Homo sapiens: one gene and its partners. The protein of the gene in region 5 purifies or fractionates together with the protein of the main gene of each other region. This does not show direct contact. Each region holds a gene or a part of one and is shown on either strand. Other genes may lie near its edges. The genes, in order: ACSL4, GPAT3, CPT1A, COQ8B, KCNK1, TMEM87A and GPAT4.

Region 1 (4,207 bases), on a different chromosome or scaffold from region 5:
TAACAAACTTGGAATAGGTAAATAAAATTGTTTTTACTGCTTTACTTACAGTTTTCTGGGTTAGATCCCAACTCTTCTACTGATTGCATGCTGTGAATCTCAAATCCTTCAGGGTACTCTGCTTTATTGATAGCCTTATTGTCCACATAAATGATATGTTTAACACAACTGATATCTAACAATGCAGTCTGTTGAGCAGAAAGAAAAAAAAACAGCTATTAAACTTAAGCCTGCAACAAAAATTCACTTACTGAATGAATATTTTTCTGTCCTGCCAGACAACGCAACCATGAATTAAAAGAAAATTTCATATTTACCTTAAGTTTACTTTCCAGAAGTTCAACACTGGTAATCAGATAGGAAGCCTCAGATTCATTTAGCCCATGAACTACTGCTTCTTTGCCAAGTGTGGCATATAAAGTCACAACTACATAATAAAAATAAACACAAATATTAAGTAATAAACATCTATTAGAAATGGATATTATTGAAGTCAGTCTTTAATAATAGTTACACTTAGAGACACAAAGACATTGTATATTTTAATTTGATTTCATAGTCTCTGTTACCATCCTTCAACCTTGCTTCAAACTCCCTGGGAGCCCAAAGTTTTCCTTACAAATTCCCAGAACTCTCACTTCCTAAACCTGAAGAAACCCAGAAACACTCGCACTGCCACAGCTGATCAAAAATCTGTCAATTTAGATGCTCAAGGCCAATAGGTACTGGCTGAACTCTTAATTCAGGTCAGACTGGCCCAGCTAGGGCTTCTTCTTGATACACACTTTCATTGGCCATAGCCTCCAAAGAATGGATAAGTCCTTGAAAATCTTGAGGATCTTAAGTCATAAGATCAGCCACAGATAATGTTCTTACTCCTTCTAAGAAGCTGTTTTAGTGAGTCCAATGTCCAATGTGATTGGTGACCTCCACACCTTAATTAGAGAGATCAAGGAGATCTACTCCTTAGGAGCCACCAGAGATAACATAAACCAAGATCAGTTAGAATCAAAGGACATCTGCTAAACTTAGAAAGAACTGAAAATTCAGCTCTAGATTGGTAACCAGAAACAATGTGGTTAAAAATAGCCACTTTCACAAGCTGTTCATCGTTGAAAGTGGGTAATGGGTACATAGGGGATCATTTTCATATTATCTATTTTTTGTTTGAAATTTAAGCTCTATAATCCTAACTTACAGTGTTATATTTCATTCAACAAACAACAGAGTACTTAGTATGTGACAATACATTGTTTATTTCTTAAACAATGGCAACAACAAATGCTTGAGTATTAGAAATATACTCAATTTTACTTTCTAACATATCTAATGCCAATTCCAGCTGTCACATGCATATTTCACACGTAAAATAGAATAAGTCAAATAAGAGGTCTCAAAGTGAAGCAATGAATTTGAATTATCCTGAGAAATGGTTTTTTGTTCTTTTAATCATTACTCTTTGTATATCACCCCCCCAAAATACCCCCAAACTCCAACTCTTTCAGTTACAATTCATTTCCAATTGGAAAATAAAAGTGTAAATCACATCCCTTAAAGCTGCCAATTCCCATATTAGTTCTTACAAGTTACCATACTTAACAGGAGTCATCGGATATCTTTTAGCCACAATATTACATGCCGTATTATGGACATAATTAATGTGTAAAATGGCTAAACAACACCTACTGTGAAAACAAGAGCATCTCAAAACAATTCTCACATGCAAGCAAAGACCCTCCTCTCCCCCCTCCAAAAACACAAGGCACTTACGAGGAAAGTTGTACTTAAAGCAGGTCTGTGCTGCAATCATCCATTCGGCCCTGGTCTCACAGAAGATGGCAATGGTGTTCTTTGGTTTTAGTCCCAGTGCAGTGAGTCCACTACCAAAGTTATTCACTCTGCGATTCACTTCAAGATAGTTCATCCATTTATAATTCCCAAGAATTAACTGTTAAAGTGATACATTCTCTAATATTAGTATATTCAAACAAGCAATTAAAATACTATCCAAAGCATAAAACTCTAAAAATGCTCTTAAATGAACATACAGAAGCTATGAGCGGCTTCTGAGTAGTTTTACACAGCACTATAATAGAATGCCAGCATACTTAAAACGCACTCGATTTATGATAAAACAAATGTGTCTTCCTCTTTAAAACATAAATGAAAAGCACCAAAATACTTTACCTTCTTAAAAACTTTTCCATTTGGCTGCATTTCATTTTCTTCACTTAGGATTTCCCTGGTCCCAAGGCTGTCCTTCTTCCCAAACTTGGATACAGCATGGTCAAATAATTTATCCAGAGTATCTGCTCCAGGGATGTCTATTACAGCTAGTGAGTCGAAGTGTGTGACAGAGCGATATGGACTTCCAGGTTTGTCTGAAGTGGGCTTAGCTTTTATTCTCTTTGCCATAGCGTTTTTCTTCTTGGCATTGGTAAGAAAATACCATGGAATAAATATAAGGGCACTGTATATTGTTATTAACAAGTGGACAGGCAGCAAAATAATGGTGAGCACATTTAGCTTAAGTTTCATAGTGGAAAGGCTTCTAAAATGGTGCTTATTTCTTGTTATTCTTTGGCTTTTGAAAGCCTTATTGTGCTGAAGAAGGCAATAATAGAAGCAGCAGTAAGAATAGCAGTACAGCCAAGGCAGTTCAATCTTAGTGATACAGATAAAAGTTAGTAATCTTTGGAAGCCGACAATAAAGTACGCCTGTAGGTGATGACAATGAACCAAGCAGAGAGCAGGAAAAATAAAAACAAAAAACAAAAAACAAAAACAAAAGAATATTAACAAGTTGATAGCACAATTGATTTAAATACTCAGGTCTTTATTAGTTTACACAATTAATTACAGAAAGCTGAAATAACTGGTCTGAAAGGCTGGCATTTTCCATTTGTAATCATTATTGACGTAAATGTCTTTGAGCACATCAACTTCTGAATTTATTTTTTTCTAGGTTTCTAGGTGTACTGGTACTCTGCATATCATTCTGTGAGTTGAATAACAACCTTAATGCTTACACAAATGCATGAATATGATATTTAAGTTTGTCAAAACTTTGGTAGAATAGGGTATGCCAATAATAAGATTTCTCTTAAACATGTGCATGTAAACTAGACATCTTTAAATAGTGTTAGGTTTATATCCAAAGGGGGGGGTGGGGCAGAAACTATCAACTTAGATTTATTTCTCAAAGGTCAACCCAGAAACCTTATTCTGAGTTCTTCATTAAGGTAAATTTCTCAGGTAATGCTATTTACTATCTACTATTTCCCACATGGGAGCAATACAATTGTAAAATCATTTCCTACATGTCCACTTTGTGCTCAAAACTGCACCAGTTGCCTAGGAGTGGTAATACAAGTCTGAAGTAGTATTAATTCCTGGCCCTTGGCCATTATAAGTTAACACTTATGAGTCAACTATCACACAAGATAGATCCAGTATTTTTGCAACTGTTTGGGGGAACGGGGACAGGGGGTGCAATTAAACCATCTCTTCTAATAAACACTACTGGAAACTGCCCATATATAACACTAAAGTGGAGTTGCTCTGGCCAAAACAGGGTTTGGGGATGTCCAGAGTCCTGCCCCAGAATTCCCGGAATCCCAACTCCCAAGGTGACCACTAAAGCATTTCCACTGAAAAGCCTTGTGGTAATACATAACTAATACATAACTACCATGTGCAGTGTAGGCAGTAGTATAAGCAATAAATGCAAAAGGAGTTCAGAGGAAGTGCAAAATGGCCAAGAGTAACTAGGAGAGGCTTTGTGGAGATTAGATTTAAGCTGGACCTTATGTTGGGCATCTAGAAATGAAAGAGGAATGGAAGGTATTCCAGGCTCAGGGACCATATGAAAAAAGATACGAAGGTGGGAATGAAAGGACTTTGGGAGAATAGGAAGTACCAATAGCAAGGACACTAGTCTGACTGGGGCACAGCATACACTAAATACGCTAAATACGCTTGACTAAATACGCTACGGTAGTTACAAAATCTAACAAATCAGGCAAAGTAATTTTGATTGGATTATGTGGAAAGCTGGGGGCTGCTGCAGGTTAGAAAAACAGTGCCATTGGAAAGAAACCGCAGAAACAGGCTCAAGAATAGTAATATTTCTTTTCTTTCTTTTTTTTTTTTTTTTTTTTTTGAGACAAGGTCTCACTTTGTCACACGGGCCAGAGTGCAGTGGCAT
Region 2 (4,207 bases), on a different chromosome or scaffold from region 5:
TATCTACTAAACAAATGCTCACAAAATAGATAAGTGACTTAAAATATTTTTGCAAAGAAACTATGATTTAAGATAATAAAGCAATGTAAACATTTATTACTTCTTGGCCTTTGGGCTAAGATCAAGTGCAGTGATATAAGCATCCAAGAACAAAAAGAAAATGCAGAGTTCAGACTCCTACTCTTAGTGGATACTCTTCAGTGTGGAAGAACTGCTTTGTAAATGCTTTTTAAAAGAAGCACCTACTACAAAATGAGCTTTTCAAAAACCAGATTGTATTAAGATACAATGTGGTGATGGTTGCACAACTCTGTGAATATGACAGAAACTACTGAATTGCATACTTTATTTTATTTATTTATTTTTATGATGAGATAGAGTCTCACTCCATCACTTAGACACAATCTTGGGTCACTGCAACCTCTGCCCGCTGAGTTCAAGCGATTCTTATGCCTCAGCCTCTCGAGTAGCTGGAATTACAGGCATGTGCCTCCATGCCTGGCTAATTTTTGTATTTTTAATAGAGATGGGGTTTCACCATGTTGGCCAGGCTGGTCTCAAACTCCTGACCTGAAGTGATCCGCCTGCCTTGGCTTCCCAAAGTGCTGGGATTACAGGCGTGAGCCAGTGCCTGAACTGAATTACACATTTTAATGGGTTGAATTGTATGGCATGTGAATTGTATGTCAATAAAGCTCTTAAAAAACAGACTGTGGCTGAAAACTTATGTCATCTATGAGAACTCTAACATTGCCTCACTTAAACTGGGATACATAATGTTCTGGCCTGTTAATCTAGCAAATAAAAAGTTTCAGTAGTTTTGAACCCAATTGTTAAACATGTTAAAATGAAACTCCTTCTGATTTAATGGATGGGAACAAGTGATTCTCATTGGGGCAAGATGGCAAAACATTATTTTAAAAGTTTTGCATAATTGATGATGAGATTAAACAATAATTTAGTTATTGCATCAGTAACTGACAAGAAAAAAGAACCTGACCTTCAAATTGCTATGTCAAGTCTTTAACAAAATTTAACACCTTATTTATCAAGGTATTTATAGGAAAGCATGTTCAAAAAGCTTTCTTCTTGCTCAAAATTGTAATAGTATTAATTATATTTATTAGTTATAGTAATATATCATGTTATTAAGTTATAATTATAAAATTGATAGTTATAATTATAAAATTAATAATATATATTAATGTATTACTTTATTATCCTATTTTGAGTGAGGACAAATTGCAACATTAATATAATTTCAAAATACTGTATTTTTAAATAAAAATATTTATACTTTTTTTTACGTTTCCAGATGTTTTATAATGTACATTATATCAGTACAGAATATGCACATTATTCTTAAACACATTGGGCTGCATGTTCAGATGTGTTATTGATGGAGTGTTTCTCCAAATGGGTTAAGATTGCTGCCTTTTACGCTGTTTCTTTTTTTTTTTTTGAGACAGTCTCACTTTGTTGCCCAGGCTGAAGTGTAGTGGCACAATCTTGGCTCACTGCAACCAACCCCTGCCTCCTGGGTTCAAGCGGTTCTCGTTACAGGGATGTGTCACCATGCCTTCCTAATTTTTGTATTTTTAATAGAGACAGGGTTTCACCATGTTGGCCAGGCTGGTCTCGAACTCCCCACCTCAAGTGATCCACTCGCCTGGGCCTCCCAAACTGCTGGGATTGTAGCCGTGAGACACTGCTTATTTCTCTTGTTTTAAATAATGCTAAACTGCTATGTTAAATCATAATCTCCTGAAAGACAGAATAACATAATGCTTATGAAAATGAATTCTGGAGCCCTGGGTTCAAATCCTGGCTCGGTTGCTTATTTTCTGTGTAACTTTGGGTGAGTTAGTTAGCCTTTCTATGCTCCAATTTTTTCATGTGTAGAATGGGGATAATGATAATATTATTGCCTCATAGAGTCTTGGGGATGATTAAATGTGTTAAATATAAAAGGTACTTAGAATATTGCGTGGTGTATAGTGTTAGGTGTTGCTTCATCATCATCTAATGTGAAACCTGGGATTGGTTAAGACAAACGATTTTATGCTCCAAATATCTGATCAGAAAGTAAAGATAGCTACGTGTCAGCAGTAAATGAGCTTCACCCTGGAGAGGGTTACTGTTCCTGACCCTTAACCTTAGGCAACCACTGTAGCTTCCCCAGACACACAGGGTCCTTCTGATACTGCAGGGGTGGTCCCCTTCAGTCTGCTTATTGAATACCTCACGCATTCAGCAACACGTGTGTGCTCTTCTGGGAACAGGAAGACATAAATAGGCCTCTGGTTTGATTTGAGAGAGTAATGAGATAATCTAAAGTTTCTGCTTTCTCCATTTGACAAAGTAAGATGATTTAAAGAATCTTATTAGTAAAATGTGATTAAACTATTGATTTTTCTTCTCTATTAACTAAATCCTATTTATTTTGAAAGATTTTGTCTTAACTTTCCTTTTTGAATAATTCTATTTACATTTCTAGAAATTACTACTTTCCTTTTGAAGTCATTGGAATGTATATTAAAAGCACTTTTCAAAAAGAAGGCAATGTCTATATGGAGGTTAGAGGTACTGTCAGTCACCTTGTTTGCTAACTTCTGAGTTATCTTGAACCATGCAAAAGGACAACAGTTAGATTTGCATTAAAAGATGTCTACATGGTGGTATATTTTGGTGTTCTTATTATGAAAGCACCTTTAAATCTATTCCCTTCACTAGCCCTCTTAACCCTTTGGTGATTATATAGATTTAACTTGATAGTTTTGTGAAAATTTCCAGGCCTTCTCTATGCATATACAGACTTGTTACACATGTGTTTGTTGTTGTTTTGCAGATGGCATCATATTCTGTACTTTATTCTGAAACTTACTTTGCTTTTTGCCTCTTAAAGTGTGTCGTGGAACATTCTTCCGTGTTAGATCTATATAGATTTACCCAGTTATTTTAGTGGCTGCATCATATTTCATCATGTGGATACTCTACAACTTATTTACAATTTTATTATTTAGGAACTTTTTGGTTACTTCCATGCTATGTGTCAAAATCTTATATGGCCCTCTCTTTTCTTTTTCAGGGTTACCTTGGCTTTCATTGGGATCAGTTTGCTGGTTATAGGAACTACACTGGTTGGGCAGCTGCCAGACAGCAGGTGAAATGTTTCCTTCCATCCAGCCATATATAGGACTGTCTTTTTTCTTAGCTGTGTCCACAAAGAGAATATTTGTTTGATTCCTATGTATTGCATTATTATTATTATTATTTTTGAGACGGAGTCTCGTACTGTCACCTGGGCTGGAGTGCAATGGTGTGATCTTGGCTCACTGCAACCTCCGCCTCCTGGGTTCAAGAGATTCTCCTGCCTCAGCCTCCTGAGTAGCTGGGATTACAGTCACCCACCACCATGCCCAGCTAATTCTTTGTATTTTTAGTAGAGACGGGGTTTCACCATGTAGGCCAGGGGGGTCTCGAACTCCTGACCTTGTGATTTGCTTTCCTTGGCCTCCCAAAGTGCTGGGATTACAGGTGTGAGCTACCACACCAGGCTGCATTGCATTAAATTTATGTTCTCTACTCATTTATTAGAATCCTGCTCACTTCATCTTCATAGTCTTTGATTTTTTTAAATCATACTTCCATATTAATTGAAAGAAGTTGTTTTTTCAAAGGAGAATTGAAGAAAGAAAATGAACTGAGTTACCTAAGAGAGTCTTATATATTGGCAAGCTCATAAGACCAAGACCAAAGAAGCTTCACTTTATCTCGTTCAGGAATTTGTCATAATAGCCTAGTGGTTTTGAGCCACTTTTCATTAGAGTTATGTCCAGTTTTTTTGGTAGACTTTTGTGATCTAATACTAAATGTGCCAATGAGACTATAACAATTGACTATAAGACTATAAGAATTGAACTGTACCTGTTCACCAGAATAGAATGTGGTATGCTGTTGTGAAAAAGCACATTAAAACCTTTATTATATTGTTTCTTAAGAGTGCCCAGAATGGCACAATAAAATGTTTCTATTTCCTTCAGCCTCAAAAACTGGCTGAGTGAACTGGTCCATCTGACTTGCTGCCGGATCTGTGTGCGAGCCCTCTCTGGTACCATTCATTATCATAACAAGTGAGTATCTGCTCCAATGTGCCTGTCTTTTTCTAGGTCAATTCAGCATGAGATTGACAAGGAAGCATTGGAAG
Region 3 (4,698 bases), on a different chromosome or scaffold from region 5:
GGATAATCAGGAGCTCCAGGAGGTACATCGACGGCCAACGCAGCTTTTATTTATACCTGCAATGGTGGGGTGGGGGGCGGGGAGGAGGCCCTAATTGTCCAATGGGGGCCGCGTAAATGGATCACAGCATAGTCAAAGGAAATCTTATGCAGCCTTGGGAAGGCCGGTGGTCATCTCCGTCCCCCAGCAGAGACCTGTCTACGACGTAAGCCAAGTGAAAACAAAACAGCCTTACAGACAGCTTGCATCCTAGCCTTCCTTTAAAACAGCGAGCCCGGGAACCGCAGGGAGAGTTAACTGCAGCGGTGGTGGGGGGCGGGATCAAAGGAGAACTTTCATTTTCTCTTCTAAATTCTTCTGCGGTAACAACTAAATGATACAGAAAGAAGGATGGTTGCAAACATGGATTTTTTCATAACTAGAAGAAGTGGTCGAACTTAAAAAGAGCAGGGTTCATAAAAGAGGTTTAAAAGAGTCTTTGTTCATAACATCGGTGCATTTATGGAGCACCTGCTGTATGCAGAGCCGCCAGCTCGCGCCTGGAAGCATTGCGGGCAAAGATAGGGGAGGGGTGGCTCCCGGTCAGGAAGACCCCCTTGGCCCTCCTGTTACGCTTGGGGCCCCTCTCCCTCCCCCTCAACCCCCTGGGTCCCCTGCAGCTGCGCTCGCCCTAGACTCCTGGGACCGGTGGATGTTCAGTTCCCGCTCCCGGCCCCTCTCCCGAGCTCCAGCACAAGGGTCTCTCGGTCGCTCTGCCCTGGCCTCCAGCTACTCCTCTCCCAGCACCTATTATGTTCTTGACGCTGGAAGAATTATTTTAGTAAATCTCACCAAAGCCCCCCAAGTGAGGCATTTTTATCCTAGCTAGATGAGGAGGAGCCACGCTGCCTCTGGATCGCGATGACTGCCACTCGTGGTATAAGGTCTGATTTGGGGCATGGGCTGTGGAATCAGATCTGGACCCAATGTCCGATCTATCACTTCCCCGCGCTTTTTTTTTTAGAGACGGGGTCTCGCTACGTTGCCCAGGCTGGCCTCGAACTCCTGGCTTCAAGCGACTTCCCGCCTCCCGAGTAGCTGGGATTACAGGCGCGCCCCACCACTCCCTGTGGATCGGTTGCTTCTCAGCTCGGTGATGTGGGGTAACTTATTTCCTGGCCCGCGACCCTTGTCTGCATGAAAGAGTCAGGGGTGAATACCATCAGGGGGTGCCTGGAGCATTACACGGGGCAATGCCGATAGATAAGTCGCGAGGATCAGCCAGGCACGGAGCTAAGCGATTTTATGCGCACGGCCTCCACGAGATGGCTCGTTTTACGGATGAGGAAACTGAGGCTCGGAGGGTGAGGAATCTCGTCCTAGACCCCATTCCGGCAGAGGTCGAGGACGCGAGCACCCGCTCGAGCCTCAGTTTCCCTCCCCTCCTAGCCCCGCGGACGCCCCGCCCCGCCGAGGCCCCGGGCCCGCCCTCCGCGCGCCGGGAGTCACCCGCCTGCAGGCGCCGCAGCCGGACCCGCCTCAGCCAATCCGCTGCTGCCGGCGTCGGGTGCGCTCGGCCTCGCCCGCGGCCCTCCTTCCCCGGCTCCCGCTCGCCGCTCGTTCACTCCACCGCCGCCGCCGCCGCCGCCGCTGCCGCTGCCGCTGCCGCACCTCCGTAGCTGACTCGGTGAGGCCCGGTCGCCCGCGGTGGGGAGGGTGGCGGGGCGGCCCTGCGGGCTGCGGGGGCCGGGGACGGGCGGGGCGCGGGGCTGCCGGGAACCGGACCGGGTGGGGGACGCCGCCGGAACCGGGGCGCCGAGAGGAACCCCGGTATTCCCCCCGGACGGCGGGGTTGTGGAGATCCTGAACCCAGAAAGAGGCCGGGGCTCCCCATGTTCCCCAGGGGATTGGGTCTGAGGGTCCACCGGGGGTCGGTCCATCCGCAGGCGGGTCCCGTGCGGCCGCGGGAGGGATGCTCGGCCCTCCGGACTTGGCTGGACGCCTCCGGCCCGGGGCCAGCGGGGCCACCGGCTCCCTTGTCTCCCACTCCTTAATCCGCCCTGGACTGGATTGAGTCTGAGGGTCTGCCCAGGGGTCGGTCAGCCTGCGGGTGGCCGCGGGAGGGATGCTGGACGCTCTGGATGCTTTCCAGGATGCCTTCGCCCGGGGCCAGTAGGGCCTCCGGCTCCTGTCCCTGCCCATCCCACCCTGGCTCTGGAGAGGATTGGGTCTGGGGGTCCGCCCGTGGGTTGGTCACCTACGGGCAGGTGCAGTGCGGCTGAGGGAGGGGTGCTCGGCCCTCGGGATTCGGCAGGGCGCCGCTGACCCCATCCCAGCGTCCGTCTCCCCGGTCCCCCTCCCCATGCCCGCCCTCGCGGTGCAGCCGTCGGGACACGCCCTTGGCGCAGGGACTCCAGGCGCGGTCCGAGCGCTGCCGTGAGCAGGATGAGGGTGCCGGGCCCAGTGCCTGCTTGGGAGCGCCCCGCAGCCTCTCCCGTGCAGCGCTGGGTCAAGGGCGGGTGGGCGCGGAGCATGTGCCCAAGGTCGTGCCGGGCTGGGAGCGGCGGGGCCGCGGGAGGGTGGGGGTGTCACGTGGCCGTGCCCTGGCGAACTTGGCCTGCGAGCCCGACGGTGCGGTCAGGGCCACGCGGGGCAGCCCCTTCTCGGAGCCACCGCCGCGGCCAGCCAACAGCCGGCTTCTTTCGGTTTGTCAGGAGAGGCCATGGGTCAGCGTCTTTATAATGTAAATCCGCCCTTGGCTTTCGTTAAAGCCGCAGAACTCAAAGATGAGGGCCGATCTTACTTTAAAAAAAGAAAACAACTCAGAGAGTTAAAAATCCCAACTACCTACCAGGTTAAATACATAACAAAGTTAATATTCCCAACTCGGCACAGGCTTTCGGTTCCTCTCGGCTCCGTGTGTTATAAAATATTTAAGGGCAGATTTTAGTAGGAAGCTGGTAACTTTGTAAGTTACCGAATAAAATGAAAATCGGTTTTACCTTTTGCAACGTTGTATTTTGTTACACCATTTTCTTCCACAGGTGTCCGGTTTCTGGTCATTCCAGATATGCAAGCATGTTTATTTCATTCTAAGCCACAAACCAAGTGAATAAAAAATGGCTGAGCACTGGTCTTCTATTTATGCCAGGAAGCACCCCCACCCCCGGGCCTTTCCAAATTCTTTAAGGCGACTCTGACCGAGTGAACGTAGCAATAAATTGAGGACATAAGTGTCGCTGAGAATGCACACCGCTGAGGCCAGCGAACATCCAGCTGTCAGTTGGTCTGGGGACTATCAGCATTCGCAGCTGGTTCTTTGGATTGGTTTTGCCTCAATACCAAGAGCCTGTGGACTGCTTTTCGCATGTAAATTACTGGTTTCCTTCCTGTGAAGCATTGCTAGCCTAGACCTTGCACTTGAACCCTATCTTAACAGTTGGAATCAAACAATAAAAAGGGCCAGGTTTGGGAGTGCACACACTTTGTTTCAAAGTGGCAGAAGTTGGCATCATGCACAGGCCAAAATAACGTTTCGAGTTGGTACTAAAAACAAGCCGCCTACCCTGGAGGGGAAGAGAATTAAACTGGGTCCCTTCCGATACTGCTGCGGCTGCTGCGTTTGGCCCCGGCCCCGGACCAGTGGTCACCGAGCGGTCAAGTTGGGCCTCCGGGGAGCCCTGGAACGAGGGCCTGCCCTTACCCAACCCTGGCCCCGAGTGCTCATTCATAAAAACACCGTCAGTTTTCACTGAGGCTTCACAGTGAGCCCCTTTTAGACGCGCCCTGGGCTCTTGAGCGCGGTGCCTGCGTTTCTGGCTCGTTGGATGCAGCATCTGTCATCAGAAGCACTGAGCACCGAGCTGTCCCCACAGCTGGGCACCGCAGGGCTCGACCTTCCCACGGAGAGGTGCGTTGCATTTCTCCCGCTGTCGCTGGGGTGGCCACAGGGACGCGCGCCAACTCGCTCCGGAAGGTCTCTGTGGGCACGGCGGGTGGAACAGGATCCGAGCGCCTGGGACGCGCCAGCCTGGGGGCGGGGCTGCTGCTGACCTTTCCCCTACTTTTCTCAGCCGTCACGTGACGCCGCCCGGGGCTTGGGGGAAGGGGCGGGGCGCGAAGCCGCAGTTGCTGGCGGTGCCCTTCCGAGGACGCTTTCCAAGCGAGCAATTAAACTTGCTGCCCGAAATCTAAAGGCGCAGGGGCGGTGGCAGCGGCGGCGGGAGGCGGAAACCGGAGCCTGCGCGGGCCAAGGGCTGCTTCTGCACTTTGATCGTTTGCATTTTTTCCTTTGTTGGAAAAAATGTTTAGTCACTCTGCATGGTTATTATTGGCAGGCCAGAATTCTGTTGCTGGTGGAAGCCTGAACTTGAATTCCGGAAGAATTGGTGCTTTAAGAATTAAAATGGCTGTTCGAGATTGTTTGTTTAAAGTGTGTTGGAGAGAATCTCTCGAGAATCTCTCCAACACACTTTAAAGAGGCCTCACTTGTCTTCTGCCAGTCTTGAGCTTTTCTTGTGAAGACTTTTGTTTTGTTTTGTTTTTACAAATAAGCGATATAAGCATACGATGCAAAGTTAAAGAGGCACAGATGGGCCCGGCCCCGTGGCTCACGCCTGTAATCTCAATGCTTTGGGAGGCCAAGGTGGGAGGATTGCTTTGAGGCCAGGAATTCGAGACCAACCTGGGCAACAGAGCCAGACCCCTGTCTCTACAAAC
Region 4 (4,207 bases), on a different chromosome or scaffold from region 5:
GACGTCCCAAAGTGCTGGGATTACAGGCATGAGCCAGCACTCCCAGCCAGGTTTCTTTTTTGCGTGGTGTAACTGTCCTAAAATTGATTCTGGTGATGCTTGCACAACTCTGTGAATATACTAATAATCATTGAATTATATAACTTAAATGGTGAATTATAACAGTATGTGAATTATTTCTCAATAAAACTGTTAGAATGAGCCTCCAAAGAGCTTATTTATGTGGATTATAGTTATCAATGTCTACCATATTAGAAATTAAAACTGAGAAATTTTTAGGCCAGGTGCGGTGGCTTACGCCTGTAATCCCAACACTTTGGGAAGCTGGGGCGGGAGGATCCCTTGAGGTCAGGAATTTGAGACCAGTCTGAGTGACATAGCGAGGCCCCATTTTTACAGAAAGTAAAAATATTAGCCAAGCATGGTGGTGCATACCTGTAGTCCCAGCTACTCAGGAGGTTAAGGCAGGAGGATCACTTGGGCCCAGGAGGTTGCAGTGAGCCATGATTGTGCCGCTGCACTCCAGCCTGGGTGATAGAGTGAGACACTGTCTCAAAAACACAACAAAAATACAGAGATATTTTTAAAACACAAGAGTACACACGTACACATTCCATCAGCTGTCAGTCTGATGGTGTCCTCACATGTCCTGGAGCCTCTGGAGAACTCCAGTGAATGTTCTTAGACGCATGAGAGCAGAAAGGGGAAAATAACATCTTAATGTTACGATAAAAATAGTTTGATCTCTCAGACCCCTCTGAATGGTCTCAGGGACCCTCAGGGGTCCCTGGCCCACATTTCGAGAATCGTTGCCCTTCTCATGTCCCCACCTGGTCACTCCCCTCACCAAGGGTGACCTCTGTCTTGGCTCCTGGACCCTGGATTTGTTTGGCCTTGTTTTGCTCTTTATATCAGTGTAACTGGGTGATGATTTCATGCACCCGGCTGCTTTCACTCAGCATTACATTTTTGAGACCCACCTGGGCTGTTGTGTGTAGTGATAGCTCATCTATTCAATACTGTAGTAGTTACTCTTTGACTCTCCTGCAATTTGTTTTAACTTATGTTTATTTTTCTTTCTTTCTTTTCTTTTTTTTTTTTTTTTCCCGAGACAGGGTATTGCTTGGTTGCCCAGGCTGGAGTGCAATGGTGCGATCACAGTTCATTGCAGCCTCAACCTCCAGGGCTCAAGCAATCCTCCTGCCTCAGCCTCCTGAGTAGCTGGGACTACAGGCACATGCCACCATACACCCAGCTAATTAGAGACAGGGTCTTGCTTTGTTATCCAGGCTGGTCTGGAACTCCTTGACTCAAGCCATCCTCCTGCATTGACCTCCCAGTGTTGGGATTATAGGCGCGAGCCAACAAGCCTGGCCTCCGTATTTCGTTTTAGCCATTCCTGTTGGTGTGCAGATGATATATATTTTTTTTAATAGAGAAAGGATGTCACTGTTGCCCAGACTGGTCTCAGACTCCTGTGTTCATCCCGCCTGGGTCTCCCAAAGTGCTGGGATTACAGGCGTGGGCCGCCGGGCCTGGCCGCAGTGATGATATTTGTGGTTATAATTCTAATGGTTGTTCTCTCCCCAGAGGGTGGTTCTGGGCTGGACTCCAGCCCCTTCCTGTCGGAGGCCAATGCCGAGCGGATTGTGCAGACCTTATGTACAGTTCGAGGGGCCGCCCTCAAGGTTGGCCAGATGCTCAGCATCCAGGGTACAGCATGACCCTCGACTCCTGACCCCTGACCTCCCTTCTACCCCAGCCCTACCCACCAACAGGCCCCAACTTCAGATACTCACACGGGGTCCCTCCTCACCTCTTCGCTTACTTCCCCCCTGGTTCCACTGTCTCCCAAGACAACAGCTTCATCAGCCCTCAGCTGCAGCACATCTTTGAGCGGGTCCGCCAGAGCGCCGACTTCATGCCCCGCTGGCAGATGCTGGTGAGTGCCCAGTGGGGGAGGGCGGTGAGGGAGGCAGGCTCCATCTCCTCTGACCTGCCTGACCTTCCTGGCTTCACTGCCCCACTCCCTGCCTCTGAGCCTCACTTTCCCCATCTGTAAAATGGGAATCACCAGAGTACACACCTCCTAGCATTGCTGTGGTGATTAAAACAGGGAACAGCAGCCTGACCTCTCTGTGCTTCAGTTCCCTTCCCTGGGAAATGGCGATAGTGACAGCCACACCCACATCATAGGGTCACATAAATCAGTTTACACTGAGCACTGAGAACGGCCCCTGATTCACTGTGAGCAACATGCAGGTGTTAGCTGTGATTATTACTGTTTTTTTAATTAAAGGAGATCGTGTCTGTAATAGGTTGGCACGGCGCCTGGCACCAAGTAAGTGCCCAGGACATGAGCTGTTCTAATAACTGGGTAAGGCATGGAATCCAGGATTCCGCCACCCACCTGCTCTCCCATCCCTGTTCTGCTTATTCGCCATGCGGCCCCAGGCAGGTACTGCCTCTCTCTGGGCCACTCTGAATAGGACCTGGCCCACAGGAAGCCCATTGTAAATTTTAGCTCTTCTTGATCACAGTAACTGTGAGTTAATAATAACATATAAGAGCATAATAAAGGATGGTTGGCCACGTGTAATGGCTCATGCCTGTAATCCCAGCACTTTGGGAGGCTGCGGTGGGAGGATCATTTGAGCTCAGGACTTCCAGACCACCCTGGGCAACATAGTGAGACCTTGTCTCTACTAAACATAATAACAGTAATAATTAGCTGGGCACAGTGGCACATATCTGTAGTCCCAGCTATTCAGGAGGCAGGAGGATGGCTTGAGCTCGGGAGGTTGATGCTGCAGTGAGCCGTGAGAGTGCCACTACACTCCAGCCTGGGCTACAGAACAAGACCCTGTCTCAAAAAAAAAAAAAAAAAAAGGATTGTTATGAGTCTTAACTATAAATAATAGCAATCCCCACAACAGCCCAGGGAGTCCAGGTTCAGGGGACACAGGCTAGGCTGAGCCTCACAGTCTGCCAGTGCCTGGCTAGTCACTTGCACAAGGGAGCTCTCTCTGAGCCTCAGTTTCCTCATCTGCAAAGGGGGTGGCAGCCAAGAGCTTAGCCCAGGGCCCTGCATGTGGTGAGTGCTGGGGTTATCAACACGTAAAGCACTCAGCCTGGGGAATGAACTCTGCCACAATGATGATGGCTGTGACCACTCCCCGCAGAGAGTTCTTGAAGAGGAGCTCGGCAGGGACTGGCAGGCCAAGGTGGCCTCCTTGGAGGAGGTGCCCTTTGCCGCTGCCTCAATTGGGCAGGTGCACCAGGGCCTGCTGAGGGACGGGACGGAGGTGGCCGTGAAGATCCAGGTGAGAGGGGAGGCTGGGCAGGGTAGGGGCGGGCACCCTGCTAGCCCAGAGAAGTGACTCCCACCTTCTCTCCCTCCCTTCTCCCTTTACAGTACCCCGGCATAGCCCAGAGCATTCAGAGCGATGTCCAGAACCTGCTGGCGGTACTCAAGATGAGCGCGGCCCTGCCCGCGGGTGAGGCGCCCACCCACTCCTCTGCTGACCTCCCAAAGGGGCTATGCCCAGAGAGAGAAAGCAGGAGGGGGAGCCCAGAGGAGAGCACGGGCAGGGTGTGCTGGCGTTGTGAGCGGGAGTGTCAGAGACAGAAAGGACACCAAGGCGGGGAGAGCCCAGGGAGCATGAGCAGGTGTGGGAAAAGCCTTATGGATTTTAACAGAGCCTTAGAGAGACGGGAGCCCAGGGCCAAGATACAGCAGCAGACTCTCAGAGGGTGTGCATGCAGGGAGCGGGATTGTAGGTGCGGCAGAGCAGAAAAGGACAGTCCTGGGGATGGCACGTGAGGAGGCGCCTAGAGAAAGGAGGGTGGGTTGTGTTTGTGTAAGAGACGGAGAGGGAGAGGGAAAGCCAGGCCCAGAAGTGAGATTCAGATGCAGTGAGCAACGTGAGAGTCAGTATGAAAAGGAGACAGAATAGAGGCAGGCGTGACTCTGAAAGAGCTGCCAGGGACTGGGGTGCAGGCATGTGCAAGAGACAGAGCCCAGAAAAGGCTTCGGAAGACCCCGGGGAACCCTGTGGTGCTATGAAGGACGAGGGAAATGTGTAGACAGATGATACGATGCAGGTCAGAGGCCTGGAGCAGGAGCTGCAAGGGGCAGCGGGGGAGACAGGAGAGGGACAGATGCAGGTCAGAGGCAGGAGCAGGAGCTGCGTGGGAGACAGGAGAG
Region 5 (4,207 bases):
ACAGGTGAGGCCAGGTGAAGATAGGTGAGGCCAGGTGAAGACAGATGTTACGGGAACCAGCAGGTAGAAAGCTAAGTGCTGTGGAGAAAGAGCGGGAAGAAATGGAGGAGGTGTCTGGGACAACAGAACTTGAAAAGAACCTGCTTCTCAGTAGCCCCAAGTCCTGTGTGTGCCTGGCTCAGCGCATCCTGGGGAGCACACTTTCCTGGGATAGGGCACTTCTGCCGCCTCCCTCCTCAGTGCATACTTCCACCAAAGACTCTTCAGACTCTATTCAGACGAAATGATGAAACCATTGTCTAAATAAGCCCCAAGAGGCTTCAGTGAAGCAGAGTGAATAGGGAACTGGGGCATCGACTTGAGTAAATAGCTTAACTCAGGTCACAGAGCCCCCCACATAACAAGAGATGACCGTAAACAACTGGAGCCTCCAACTCCAACTCTATTGATCATACTCAGAGAAATGAAACCTAACATGTTTTACTCTCTCTAAATCCCTTAGAAACATTCTACCTGCTTTTGTTTTGTTTTTTGACTTGAATAGTTTCAGGTTTACTTTCTTTTTTTTAAAGAAAGCTTTTTTGGCAAGGTGCGGTGGCTCACGCTACCTGTAATCCCAGCACTTTGGGAGGCTGAGGTGGATCACCTGAGGCCAGGAGTTCAAGACCAGCATGGCAACCAACATGGCAAAACCCTGTCCCTACTAAAAATACAAAAGTTAGCCGGGCATGGTGGCATGCGCCTGTGGTCCCAGTTACTCAGGAGGCTGAGGCAGGAGAATCACTCGAACCTGGGAGGTGGAGGTTGCAGCGATCTGAGATCACGCCACTGCACTCCAGCCTGGGTGACAGAGCGAGACTCCGTCTCAATAACAAAAAACAAAAGGTTTCTTTCTTCTTTTTAAAACTGACACGTAATAATTTTACGTATTTATGAGGTACACAGTGATACCTCAATACACATAATGTACAGTGATCACATCAGGGTAATTACCATATCCATCATCTCAAATGTTTATCATTTCTTTGTGTTGGGAACATTTAATACCTTTCTTTTAGTGACTTGAAACTATATATTACTGTTAACTATAGTCATTCTACAGTGGTATAGACAACCAGAACTTATTCCTCCTATCTAGCTGTAATTTTGTATCCTGTAACAAATCTCTCCCCATCCCCCCTCCCCGTACCCTTCCCAGATGCTAGTATGCTCCATTTACTTTTCACTTCTATAAAGCCAACCTTTTTTTTTTCTTGCTAACCATTTCCATTTGTTTTCATTATCTTCCATTGTTTCTTTTTGAAAAGATAATCCCAGAAGTTAGTGCATTAGAAAAACTGTTTGAGATTAACTTTTTTTAGCTTCCACATATGGGTGAGAAAATGTTGTATTTAACACTCTGTGCCTGGCTTTCTGTCCTCTGAATGCATCAGCCATGATTTCACCGACTCTCTCTGAGTTCCCTGAGAGCTTTCTGCCTAAAGCCCTTCCATGGGTACTAATAACTGAGTCTCAGAGGCAGCAGCGGGCAGGCTTTTATTTCACAAAGTTGGTCAATCCCAGTCAGAGGAGCTAATGCAAAAAGTTAGACTCTGATCTGGGATCAAGCAGACGGTAGCAAATTAAAAACACTCCCATGTCTAACCTAAGCAAATTAATCTCATCAATATAACAATCAGCTGTTTTCCAAATTAAAGAAGGCAAACATGAAAACCAGTAGAAAGTCACAGATAAGCCCTTCTGATCTGACTCAAGTTCAAGGAGACAATCCCACAGTCCTTTCAGGTGCACAAACTCTACATCTCCAACTCCCTATTCTCTTTCTTCCTCCATTCAGCCTCAGATCGGGGGCATCACCTTGCAATATGCTGCTGACAGAGAGTGGGCCACCAACTTTGGGGATTGAACAAAAAATAAGGGATCCATGCAAAAGAAACAAAGAAAGTCAGAGTACAGACTGAGTCTAGGAGATAGAAGTATCACAGGAGTCAATAAAACACCTCAAAAGTTGCTTGCTTTCCAATAAAGTGACAACCTTTATCTCCTGCCTTGAATAAGCCACCTGGGCATGACACAGTCAATGGAGAACTTCAGCACCTTAGTATTTCACGGATTTGTCAATAATACAATTGGAAGATGTCTTTGGAGAATAAAAGCCAGCAGGTGCAACTCTGAGTATGTCAGAGTATATGAGGCAGATGAGATTTCTGTCCCTGAAACCAACCTTGTAGTAAACTGAACCTTCTGGAATTGCCATTTTTATGGGTCAAAACAATTGAGTGTCGGCAATTCACATGCTCCAAAGACAATAGACACTCACACACAGCAACAGTCCAATGAGCAATGTCATAAAACAACTTGTTCTCAAAGCACCGGAGTTCCCAATAGGTTACTGCTTCAATCAAAGATTCTGTTCTTGATAGGACTTACAGTTATGTCATAAAAGAAGAGACATCATTTCTTCCAAGTTATTGATAATAGTAGCAGTATCTTCCGGGGGCTATAAAATGACAGTCACACACAGTAACACTCCAATGAGCAATGTCATAAAATAGCTTGTTCTGAGAGCACCAGAGTTCCCTTAGGATACTGGTTCAATCAAAGATTCTGTCCTTGATAGGACTCACAGTTATGTCATAAAAGGAAAGACATCATTTCTTCCACGTTATTGATAATAGTAGCAGTATCTTCCAGGGGCTATAAAATAGGCATAGATAATAACAAATTTATAGTTAAAAAAAAACCCCAAACCTTCAAAATACTAAAAACTGGTATGTTTTATAGACAGGTATGAGTTCACAGATTTAAACACTAAGAATCTCTTCTCTTTGACCATTATTGGGTGGAAATGTTTCTAGAATTTATTATACACTTCCCTGCCTTCTTAAGTAGAAACATGTTGAGATATTTTTCTTGATGATTCAAGGACGTGGATTACTATATTGCGCTCTAAAACAATGACATCCCATTCAGGTATATAAAATTGTTCGTTGCAAGACTAAAGACTTAAAAGATTCTGTCTCTTGTCCTCCACTATTTGTATGGGTTTTGTGCAACTAAATAAAAACTATCATGTACCTCTATATTAGTTTGCTAGGGCTGCCTTAACAAAATATCACCAGTGGGTGGCTTAAACAACAGAAATTTATTTTCTCAAAGTTCTGGAGGCTTCAAGTTCAAGATCAATGTGTCTGCAAGCTTCATTTCTTCTGAGGCCTCTCTTGGCTTGCAGATGGCCACCTTCTCACTGTGGCCTCATTTTATCTTAATCACCTCCTTAAAGATGTTATCTATAAATACAGTCACATTTTGAAATACTGAGGGTAGAACTTCGACATAAGAACTTGAGGGAGACGATTTGGCCCATAACAAGGTCTGATGCCCAGATGCTATTAAAGCTCAGGTTCTTAGACATAACTGCATTCAAATTAAGACCATGTCACTTCCGGCTTTGGGACCTAAGTAGAGAAGTTGTTCAACCTATTAATTTCCGTTTCATCCTCTGTAAAGTGAAGACAATGATACCTATATCTCATCAGTTTATTGCAATGCATGGAAATGAATATGTGTAAACATTGCCTGGCACATATAAAGGGTTCAATAAAGATGTTATTTTAAAATAAAATTTTAGTTTGGAATTTTTTAACTATTTATCTTTTTATAACCTGCCATGTCTATTTCCCCATAGCTGTGCCTTTCCCTCTGTAATTTCTTATATTATAGGCTTGAAAACCAGATAATTAAAACTTCTAGAATTAAATGTAAAGGCTCAAAATCAAGACCTGTGAATACAGAGCACAAACATCAGAATATGGGATTTTGGATCTCTCTTCTGGCTAATACAGAGTTTGCTTGTTTAATTTTATGTAAATTCTATAGTAGATATAATTTAGTATTTATTGCACATTTTAGATAAGATAATCACAATGTGAAGTGTAGACTGTCATCATTAAAGGAAAAAAAAAGCAGTGACACAAATTGGATCACAAGTAAGTGGCATCTGAAATAAACATTTGTTTTGAAAGTGGTTGGTGGTGATACATAATTTATTCAATGTTGCATACCACTTAGAACAACAGCACAAAGAAGTCTGAGAAGCTGAACTTTCTTACACAAAGTTTCCCAGAAGAAAGTGAAATATTCAGAATACTCTTAGCGTACCTTTCAAGTATCATTCTGAAGCAGATGTCAGCAAACTTTTTTTGTG
Region 6 (4,207 bases), on a different chromosome or scaffold from region 5:
GCACTCCAGCCTGGGCGACAGAGTGAAACTGTCTCAACAACAAAAAATTAACAAAATGATGAAGCTCCCTTCTCTTCATTTTGTGTGTGTATGTGTGTATGTGTGCACATACATGTATGTGTGCATACGTCTGTGTCTCAGAATATCCTTAATATATTTTCAATTTTCTTTGTTCATGATTATTCTCTTCTTCCTTTCCCTTTAATAGTTTTCCCGTTTTGTTGTGTTTCCTTGCCTCTAGATGTATCCTAATCATCATGCCATTTTTCTTCTTCAGTGTTGTCTTCATCTATATAATTTTAGATCGTGAGCTGAAATAGCTCCTTCTTTAAAAAAAAAAAAAAAAAAAGAGAGTCTCACTCTGTCTCCCAGGCTGGAGTGCAGTGGCATGATAATGGATAATGGCTCACTGCAGCCTTAAACTCCAGGCTGAAGCTACCCTCCACCTCAGCCTCCCAAGCAGCTAGGACAACAGGCGTGTGCCACTATGCCTGGCTAATTTTTATTTTATTTTATTATTTTTTATCTTGAAACGTAGTCTCACTCTGTCACCCAGACTGGAGTGGAATGGCACGATCTTGGCTCAATGCAACCTCCAGCTCCTGGGTTCAAGCGATTCTCCTGCCTCAGCCTCCTGAGTAGCTGGGACTACAGGTGCGCACCACCATGCCTGGCTAATTTTTGTATTTTTAGTAGAGACGGGGTTTCACCATGTTTTGGCCAGGCTGGTCTTGAACTCCTGACCTCAAGTAATCTGCCCATCTCTGCCTCCCAAATTGCTGGTATTACAGGCATGAGCCACCATGCCTGGCCTAATTTTTATTTTTTGTAGGGACAGAGTCTTGCTATGTTGCCTAGACTGGCCTTGAACTCATGACCTCAAGCAGTCCTCCTGCCTCGGCTTCCCAAAGCACTATTGCAGGTGTGAATTACCACGCCTGACCAGAAAAAGCTCTTTTACTATAGGAGAGCAGGCTGAGTGCTCTCTATATATACCATATATGTGTCTGTGTGTATAATAGAGAGCACCTTTTATATGGTATACATATGTGATACATACATACACACACACACACACACACACACACACACATATATATATATACATATGAGAGCATTCGCTCTTGAGGACAAGTTCATATGTAGTCTTCTCTGCTCAAGACAAGATAATGCTTTCATATTAGTTAATGTTAAGCTCCAAAGGAAGAATTATTTCTTAACTAGAAGGTAGAATATATTTTTGTAACTTGTTAAGACTGTATATTGATTCAGGACAGGCGCTGTGGCTTATGCCTGTAATCCCAACACTTTGGGAGGCAGAGATGGGAGGATTGCTTGAGTCCAGAAGTTCAAGACCATCCTAGGCAACATAGCAAATCCCCATCTCTTAAAAAAAAAAAAAAAGTATATATTGATTCTAAATCTACAGACTTGGCTCTTGGCCCTAATTCTCCTTTTTATCTTTTACCCAATTTGATAACAGTTTTTCATGGTGATGTGTATTGTATATGTCCTGTTTGGTGTTCTGTGGCTGGCATGGTCTGCCTGCTACTGGAGAGATCTCCTGAGAATTCAGTTTTGGATTGGTGCTGTCATCTTCCTGGGAATGCTTGAGAAAGCTGTCTTCTATGCGGAATTTCAGAATATCCGATACAAAGGAGAATCTGGTAAGTAACCAGAAAATCTTTGCCAGTTCGAGTGGTTGGAAGGTGAGATGTATGAAAATATTCCTAAGGTCAGCAGTCACTACATAGGCTTAACTTTTCAATTACTTAATTATTACAATATCTTAAGCAGAATCACTATGACTCTGACTTTTGTTTTTAATCTTATGAGTTCAGTGATGTAAGACTAATTTTACTGAAATATGCTCACAAAAGTCACAACAGTAGTGACCATTTTGGGAATGATTATTAACATCAAATCTCAATTTCTGTTGATTTCTAAGGCACCATTATACATCTAAGAAAAAAAGTAAAGCTGTCAATTTAATTGTAAAATGTCACTGATTGTAAGACACACCTTGATTTAAAAAACCTCAAAATGTGGTGGGAAAGTGCATCTAACTGATAAAATATAGTCATATCAAGAAAATAGGAGAGTGCTTATGGTTTAGTAAGGTGAACTGGTAATGACAGAAGTTGTTTTATACTGTAGTTTTTTGTGATTGCTTCAGTTTTTTCTTGTCAGACCATTTAATTTAGTCATAATTATTATTGTGAGATAAACTGATAAGATTTTCCCTGGTCTTTGAAAGGTCTTGAAAATAGTAGATCTGAAAAAAGTTAAGCTGTACATGCCAACAAGCGTGTACACGAGTGTGTTTTGTGCTTTTCTATGTGTAGCTGTATTTCACAGTTTTTAAAAATGGGGGAAATTGTCTCGATGCTACAAACTGTCCATATAGGGTGAGGTATTCTGTTAAAGTTTTAGTGAATTTGGGGCCAGGTCGGGGAGGGAGCTGAGTTGAGCGCACCCAGATTGCCATACATAGACATGAGTAAGATTGTGAGTGGCATCAGCTTGTATCCTGTAAAAACTGTGGAAGAGGTATTCTATTTTAGCAGGACTAATATCAATGCTTATTCTGAAGAGTGTAGAAAGCAGCAGTCTAGTATTGGCATCTGGCCTGTTGCCAAACCTAGATTATGGTGCCATTTCTTCCCTTCTTTTTCATAGTCCAGGGTGCTTTGATCCTTGCAGAGCTGCTTTCAGCAGTGAAACGCTCACTGGCTCGAACCCTGGTCATCATAGTCAGTCTGGGATATGGCATCGTCAAGTAAGTATTAACTTCCTGTATGGAAGAGCAAATTAAAATGCTGATTAAATTAAAACAGTATTGCATGTTCCCAATGTAGTAGTTCTGAAATAGTTGATAAAAGAAATAATTCTGAAACAAGAAAGGTATTTGAAATTTTGTAGCATTGTAAATGTTGGGAAAATGTGTTTCATTTTCCATACTTCCAAATATATTCCATACTTCCAAATATATTCCATACTTCCAAGTCCAAATGTATTCCATACTTCCAAATCCAAATGTATTCCATACTTCCGAATATATTTCCATACTTCCAAAATATTTTTTGCAAATTAGATTTTTTATGGGAAACGCATTCTTGCTGTAACTGTCTGAAAATATTTTTCTATCCAAAAAATTTTATTTTTATTGAGGAGTGTCTTCTATAGGCATTCTTTGAGGCATTGTTCTAGGCCCTGGGGATATGGCAAGTAAACAGAAGATTTTGAGCTTACATTTGTGGAGGGAGGGGACAAAGACAAAATTTAAGTGGGTAAAATATTTTAATATGTCAGTGGAAAGTGCAGTGGAGCAGGTAATGCAGGAGCTAGAGCTTGCAGTTGTACATAGGGTGATCAAGGAGGGCTTCACTTAATGACATTTAAGCAGAGACTTCAAGGAGGTGAGGGAGCTATATGTATACCCAAGGGAAGAGATGCTGAATTGAGATCAGATTCTATATATATTTTGAAGGTGGAACCAGTGGAATTTGCTGATGGATCAGATGTATGATAGGAAAGAGAAGAGGAATTAAGGATGATGCCAATTGTTTTGATCTGATAAAATGGCAGGATGGAATTGAAGATTTACTGAGTTCAGGAAGACCTTAGGTGAAATAAGTGTGGAGCAGGGGCAAGATTGGAGTTGAATTAGATAACTAAGTAGGGGAAACAAAGGGGAGAGGTTGGGGCAGAGATAAAAGTTTGGGAGTCATGAAGATAAAGATATTATTTAAAGTCATGAAGGCCAGGCGTGGTGGCTTACGCCATAATCCTCACACTTTGGGAGGCCAAGGCGGGCAGATTGCCTGAGGTCAGGAGTTCAAGACCAGCCTGGACAACACAGTGAAACCCTGTGTCTGCTAAAATACAAAAAATTAGCCGGCTGTGGTGGCATGCACCTGTAGTCCCAGCTACTTGGAAGGCTGAGGCAAGAGAATCGCTTGAACCCTGGAGGCGGAGATTGCAGTGAGCCAAGATCATGCCACTGCACTCTAGCCTGGGTAACAGAACGAGACTCCATCTCCAAAGTTAAATAAATAAATAAATAAAGTCATGAGACTGGATTTGGTCACCAAGGAAGTGAGTATATATAGAGAAGAGGTCCAAGGGCTGGGCCCTTGAATATTTAATATTATTTAGAAGTCTGTAAGATGAAGTAGTTAGCAGAAGAAATTGAGGAGAGACCAGT
Region 7 (4,207 bases), on a different chromosome or scaffold from region 5:
GAACGCAGCTAGTGAATGTAAACTTGGGAATTGAATCTGGGTTTTTTTTTTTCGGTCTCCTAATAGTGTTCTTTTTTTCCTTTAACACTATTAAGCCACTCCCAGGCCTTTCAGTGTTAAGTTGTGGGATTCTCCCATTAAAATGTTACTCCTGTTACTGGACAGTCCAAACATATGTATTACTTAAGCTCTTTGTCTCCTTTAAAATGAAAATTGCTGCTTTCTTGGAGTAATTTGGTGGCAGGCAGTAGTTTACAGGATACCTGGCTTCGCTGTTTTGAGTAGCTGCCGTGCGGCAGTGCAGGAGGAATCGTGAGGTCTGTGCTGTCAGCAAGTGAGCTCCCTACAGCCCGGAGACAGAGAGACGTAGGCAGTGAGGAACTAGGCCTGAGGAACTCGCCCCAGCTTCTTGAAGTTCCCAGTGTTTTGCTATAGGTGACTTAACTCTTGGTCCCAGTTGTCAAGGAAGGGGCTGCTCTGGGGAGAGGTGGTTTGAGTTTCCTTCTAGACTATGTGCTTCTTGGCTACGGTCTTAGGTGACTGGGACTGAGGCTTTCACAGAATAGAGATGGAGGTGTTCACTGATTGAAAACAGGTCTCATTCTTGCTCTTGTATCTTGCTTCCTTCCCCTCCCAGTGGGCTACCTTGAGAATGGAGCGAGGAGCCAAGGAGAAGAACCACCAGCTTTACAAGCCCTACACCAACGGTAAGATGGGGGTGTGATCCTTGTCCTGAGAGGTCCATTTGAACAGTGTTCCCCAGTGCTTCTGGTGCCACACACGCTCTTCCCTGCATTAGTGCAGGATGTGTGCTCTGAGTATGTCTCACGTGCTCTCCCCCAGCGTGCTGCTTGACAGGGACACATTCTTTTGCAGGAATCATTGCAAAGGATCCCACTTCACTAGAAGAAGAGATCAAAGAGATTCGTCGAAGTGGTAGTAGTAAGGCTCTGGACAACACTCCAGAGTTCGAGCTCTCTGACATTTTCTACTTTTGCCGGAAAGGAATGGAGACCATTATGGATGATGAGGTGACAAAGAGATTCTCAGCAGAAGAACTGGAGTCCTGGAACCTGCTGAGCAGAACCAATTATAACTTCCAGTACATCAGCCTTCGGCTCACGGTCCTGTGGGGGTTAGGAGTGCTGATTCGGTACTGCTTTCTGCTGCCGCTCAGGTGAGGCAGGGCCTGCGGGAGTGGGGCTCGCTGCTGCCACCCCACGTGGTGCACAGCCCACCTGCCTGCTCTGCTGTGTATTCCCGTTTTAGAAAGGAGGAGGGAATGACTGTCGTTAGCCAGGCCACGTGACTCTTTGGAGGGATACACTGGTGATTCTCCTTTAGAGGCCCTTGGATTCTCTGCATATCAGACAGAAATAGTTGGATTTCTTAAAGACAGCTTGCTTCTCTAGATGACAGCAAACACAGGGACAGGGAACATTGTGTGCTTTCTGCCACTCCTTCCTGGACATGGCTCATTCTTTCCTGAAGCTTGCCTCTCAGGTACAGGGGCAGTATTGATCTTTCAGCTTCTCTGCACCATGTGCTGCTCTGAGTGTGCCTTGCCAGATGCTAATACCTTCAAGCTCCACCTCCTGTTGCTTCAGAGGGAAGCTGTGCTTCCACCGGGGTTTCCAGCCAAAGGGAAGGGGAGGGCAGCAGGGAGCAGCCCTGTGGCAGAATGGCCAGCTTAGGGTTTTCCAGCCTTCCAGCTGCCTGAGGCCTCAGGAGATGCAGGCAGCTGAGAGCCAGACCCATGGCTCACTGTCAGCTGGAATCAAAAGGATCTCTGGTTCTGATAGGCCTGCTTACATTTCTAGGTGAACTCTGGTCCAGGTCCCAGGTGAGCAGGTCTTGGGGGTGGTTTTTGTGATGCCCCCTTTGATTTTCACACCTTCAGTTCTGTACTTGGTAGAATGATTTGCTGGCTGTGCTCTAACTTTTCTTCTTCTTACAGGATAGCACTGGCTTTCACAGGGATTAGCCTTCTGGTGGTGGGCACAACTGTGGTGGGATACTTGCCAAATGGGAGGTGAGTAGAGTGTGGCAGTCCATGCCTGAAGGACAGTTAGTTCTGGGAATGGTGCTCAGATATCGAAGGCAAGGACACTTCTTTGGACACAACCAAAGCCATGGAATCTTAGATGGATTAAATAACCCAGTGGTGGCCAGGCACGGTGGCTCATGCCTGTAATCCCAGCACTTTGGGAGGCTGAGGTGGGTGGATCACCTGAGGTCAGGAGTTTGAGACCAGCCTGGCCAGCATGGCGAAACCTGTCTCTACTAAAAATACAAAAGTTAGCCAGGCACGGTGGCGGGTGCCTGTAATCCCAGCTACTTGGGAAGCTGAGGCAGGAGAATCCTTGAATCCAGGGGGCAGAGGTTGCAGTGAGCCAACATCACACCACTGCACTCCAGCCTAGGCAACAGAGCGAGACTCCATCTCAAATAATAATAACAACCCAATGGCAACAACGGCATCAGCAGTAAAGTCTTTACTTTTTTTAAATTTTGATCTATGACTGTTCTTTTTGTCCTTCAGCCCTCACATTCTTCCCATTTTGAAGACAAAAGGGAGGAGCCACAGACATGTAGAGTCCGAGACTCAGATGTTAACAGATTTTACAGCTTGTTGTTTAGTTTTGAGCATTTGACTGTGTGGATAAAGTGATGAGACAATACAGTTTTTAAAATGGTTTGAAATGTAGGGAGGTTTTGTCTGTTTGTGTGAAGAATATTTTGCTCCCTTTGGGAAGTTCTGGGGTTTAGAAACCTTTCTTCTGCCTGGGCGGGTGAGGAGGTTGGCCTCTGGCCTTGGACCTGCCTCTGGATGTTGACTGGGGGAACGGAGTTCAGCCCGCCTGTGGTCTGCGGATGCCGGATTCTAGGCTGTGAATTCTCCACCCACTGATTTGGGTGGATGTAAGTGAGTCTCCCTGTCCCCTCTTTCTCTCCTCATGTGTGAACATAAAGGTGCTCATGCATCACAGGACTTTCCTGTAGGTGCTGATGTCTATACAAGCACTTTGCTGTTATAAAGGACTGCTGAGCTGTTGAAGTCAGTAACTCTTTCTGTCTTCCTGTATGTAAAATAAAACCCAGAATCCTTGTCCTGTTATTGCAGGTTTAAGGAGTTCATGAGTAAACATGTTCACTTAATGTGTTACCGGATCTGCGTGCGAGCGCTGACAGCCATCATCACCTACCATGACAGGTGAGAGCGCTTTGTATTGATAGGAAGGGAGATGGCGCTGCAGGAAACACCACCCACCTATACTTAGCCAAATGGGAAGACACTTCTGAGCTTTTAGTTAGAGCAGATGAAGCATGTGAGGTGAGAGGTGTGTTACATGAACTGTTTCACACTAATTTTGGTTGCTTTGCATACATTTTAAACCCAGGGAAAACAGACCAAGAAATGGTGGCATCTGTGTGGCCAATCATACCTCACCGATCGATGTGATCATCTTGGCCAGCGATGGCTATTATGCCATGGTAAGAGCTCTTTCCGGTGCGTTCTTGAGGCAAGACTTCCTGCTTTAGAGTGGTCAGGGCTAGGAGGCTCCTGGACCCTTCACATAAACACATTTATGCGTGGGCCAGGCCCCCACCTTACTGTCACTGTGGGGGCTCTGTGGGACTGTGATAGGAGATACCCTGGGCAGAGTGATTGGTGAGTGTGGCTGGAGAGGATGCCAAGGGCAGTCAGGCAGACCAGCAGGGGCAGAGGGAGTTGCTGGCAAGGACTGTGTCCAGGGCATCTGAGAATCTGCCCAGGGAGGGGCAGTTTTACACAGGGAATTGCGCTACTTTAGTATTTTAGTATTTTGTCTTAGGGGTTTCAGTTATGTTTTTAATTACCTATTTCTAGTATTACTGATTAAAAGGAGAAGTTTAAGATTTGGGGAGTCTTGGTAGTGGTTTCTTGGCAGTGAGCAACCTTCAGCCGGCAAGCGTTAGAAGTGAGAAGTTGGACTGCTTATTTTGTGAGATGTGGTTCTTCCTAGAGTGGGGAGATTCGTGTGAAGATGGCTTCACTACTAATGAGTCCTGTGCCTGCGCTTAGGTGGGTCAAGTGCACGGGGGACTCATGGGTGTGATTCAGAGAGCCATGGTGAAGGCCTGCCCACACGTCTGGTTTGAGCGCTCGGAAGTGAAGGATCGCCACCTGGTGGCTAAGAGGTAATGGACAGAACACTGCTGTTCT

What was found.
Region 1: the proteins of KCNK1 (region 5) and ACSL4 purify together in Homo sapiens (affinity purification with mass spectrometry; one large-scale study listed by BioGRID and IntAct). This does not show direct contact.
Region 2: the proteins of KCNK1 (region 5) and GPAT3 purify together in Homo sapiens (affinity purification with mass spectrometry; one large-scale study listed by BioGRID and IntAct). This does not show direct contact.
Region 3: the proteins of KCNK1 (region 5) and CPT1A purify together in Homo sapiens (affinity purification with mass spectrometry; one large-scale study listed by BioGRID and IntAct). This does not show direct contact.
Region 4: the proteins of KCNK1 (region 5) and COQ8B purify together in Homo sapiens (affinity purification with mass spectrometry; one large-scale study listed by BioGRID and IntAct). This does not show direct contact.
Region 6: the proteins of KCNK1 (region 5) and TMEM87A purify together in Homo sapiens (affinity purification with mass spectrometry; one large-scale study listed by BioGRID and IntAct). This does not show direct contact.
Region 7: the proteins of KCNK1 (region 5) and GPAT4 purify together in Homo sapiens (affinity purification with mass spectrometry; one large-scale study listed by BioGRID and IntAct). This does not show direct contact.

The regions. Positions count from the first base shown.
Region 1 is NC_000023.11:109,680,949-109,685,155, forward strand, and holds part of ACSL4 (long-chain-fatty-acid--CoA ligase 4), read right to left. Parts: intron 2,719-4,207; exon of another isoform or gene 2,539-2,718; coding exon of another isoform or gene 2,416-2,538; coding exon 2,188-2,415; intron 1,949-2,187; coding exon 1,771-1,948; intron 428-1,770; coding exon 318-427; intron 189-317; coding exon 50-188; intron 1-49. UniProt on the Homo sapiens protein: Catalyzes the conversion of long-chain fatty acids to their active form acyl-CoA for both synthesis of cellular lipids, and degradation via beta-oxidation. Preferentially activates arachidonate and eicosapentaenoate as substrates.
Region 2 is NC_000004.12:83,584,167-83,588,373, forward strand, and holds part of GPAT3 (glycerol-3-phosphate acyltransferase 3), read left to right. Parts: intron 1-3,088; coding exon 3,089-3,163; intron 3,164-4,043; coding exon 4,044-4,133; intron 4,134-4,207. UniProt on the Homo sapiens protein: Converts glycerol-3-phosphate to 1-acyl-sn-glycerol-3-phosphate (lysophosphatidic acid or LPA) by incorporating an acyl moiety at the sn-1 position of the glycerol backbone.
Region 3 is NC_000011.10:68,838,743-68,843,440, reverse strand, and holds the start of CPT1A (carnitine O-palmitoyltransferase 1, liver isoform), read left to right. Parts: upstream 1-1,524; 5' UTR 1,525-1,666; intron 1,667-3,023; exon of another isoform or gene 3,024-3,889; intron 3,890-4,698. UniProt on the Homo sapiens protein: Catalyzes the transfer of the acyl group of long-chain fatty acid-CoA conjugates onto carnitine, an essential step for the mitochondrial uptake of long-chain fatty acids and their subsequent beta-oxidation in the mitochondrion.
Region 4 is NC_000019.10:40,702,831-40,707,037, reverse strand, and holds part of COQ8B (atypical kinase COQ8B, mitochondrial), read left to right. Parts: intron 1-1,590; coding exon 1,591-1,713; intron 1,714-1,856; coding exon 1,857-1,942; intron 1,943-3,182; coding exon 3,183-3,323; intron 3,324-3,415; coding exon 3,416-3,497; intron 3,498-4,207.
Region 5 is NC_000001.11:233,620,267-233,624,473, reverse strand, and holds part of KCNK1 (potassium channel subfamily K member 1), read right to left. Parts: intron 323-4,207; exon of another isoform or gene 255-322; intron 1-254. UniProt on the Homo sapiens protein: Ion channel that contributes to passive transmembrane potassium transport and to the regulation of the resting membrane potential in brain astrocytes, but also in kidney and in other tissues.
Region 6 is NC_000015.10:42,234,892-42,239,098, reverse strand, and holds part of TMEM87A (transmembrane protein 87A isoform 1 precursor), read left to right. Parts: intron 1-1,483; coding exon 1,484-1,667; intron 1,668-2,679; coding exon 2,680-2,779; intron 2,780-4,207. UniProt on the Homo sapiens protein: Potential monoatomic ion channel gated by mechanical force, implicated in normal touch sensitivity through the generation of mechanically activated currents.
Region 7 is NC_000008.11:41,608,779-41,612,985, forward strand, and holds part of GPAT4 (glycerol-3-phosphate acyltransferase 4 isoform 1 precursor), read left to right. Parts: intron 1-637; coding exon 638-707; intron 708-876; coding exon 877-1,177; intron 1,178-1,183; exon of another isoform or gene 1,184-1,843; intron 1,844-1,957; coding exon 1,958-2,032; intron 2,033-3,124; coding exon 3,125-3,214; intron 3,215-3,401; coding exon 3,402-3,495; intron 3,496-4,066; coding exon 4,067-4,182; intron 4,183-4,207. UniProt on the Homo sapiens protein: Converts glycerol-3-phosphate to 1-acyl-sn-glycerol-3-phosphate (lysophosphatidic acid or LPA) by incorporating an acyl moiety at the sn-1 position of the glycerol backbone. Active against both saturated and unsaturated long-chain fatty acyl-CoAs.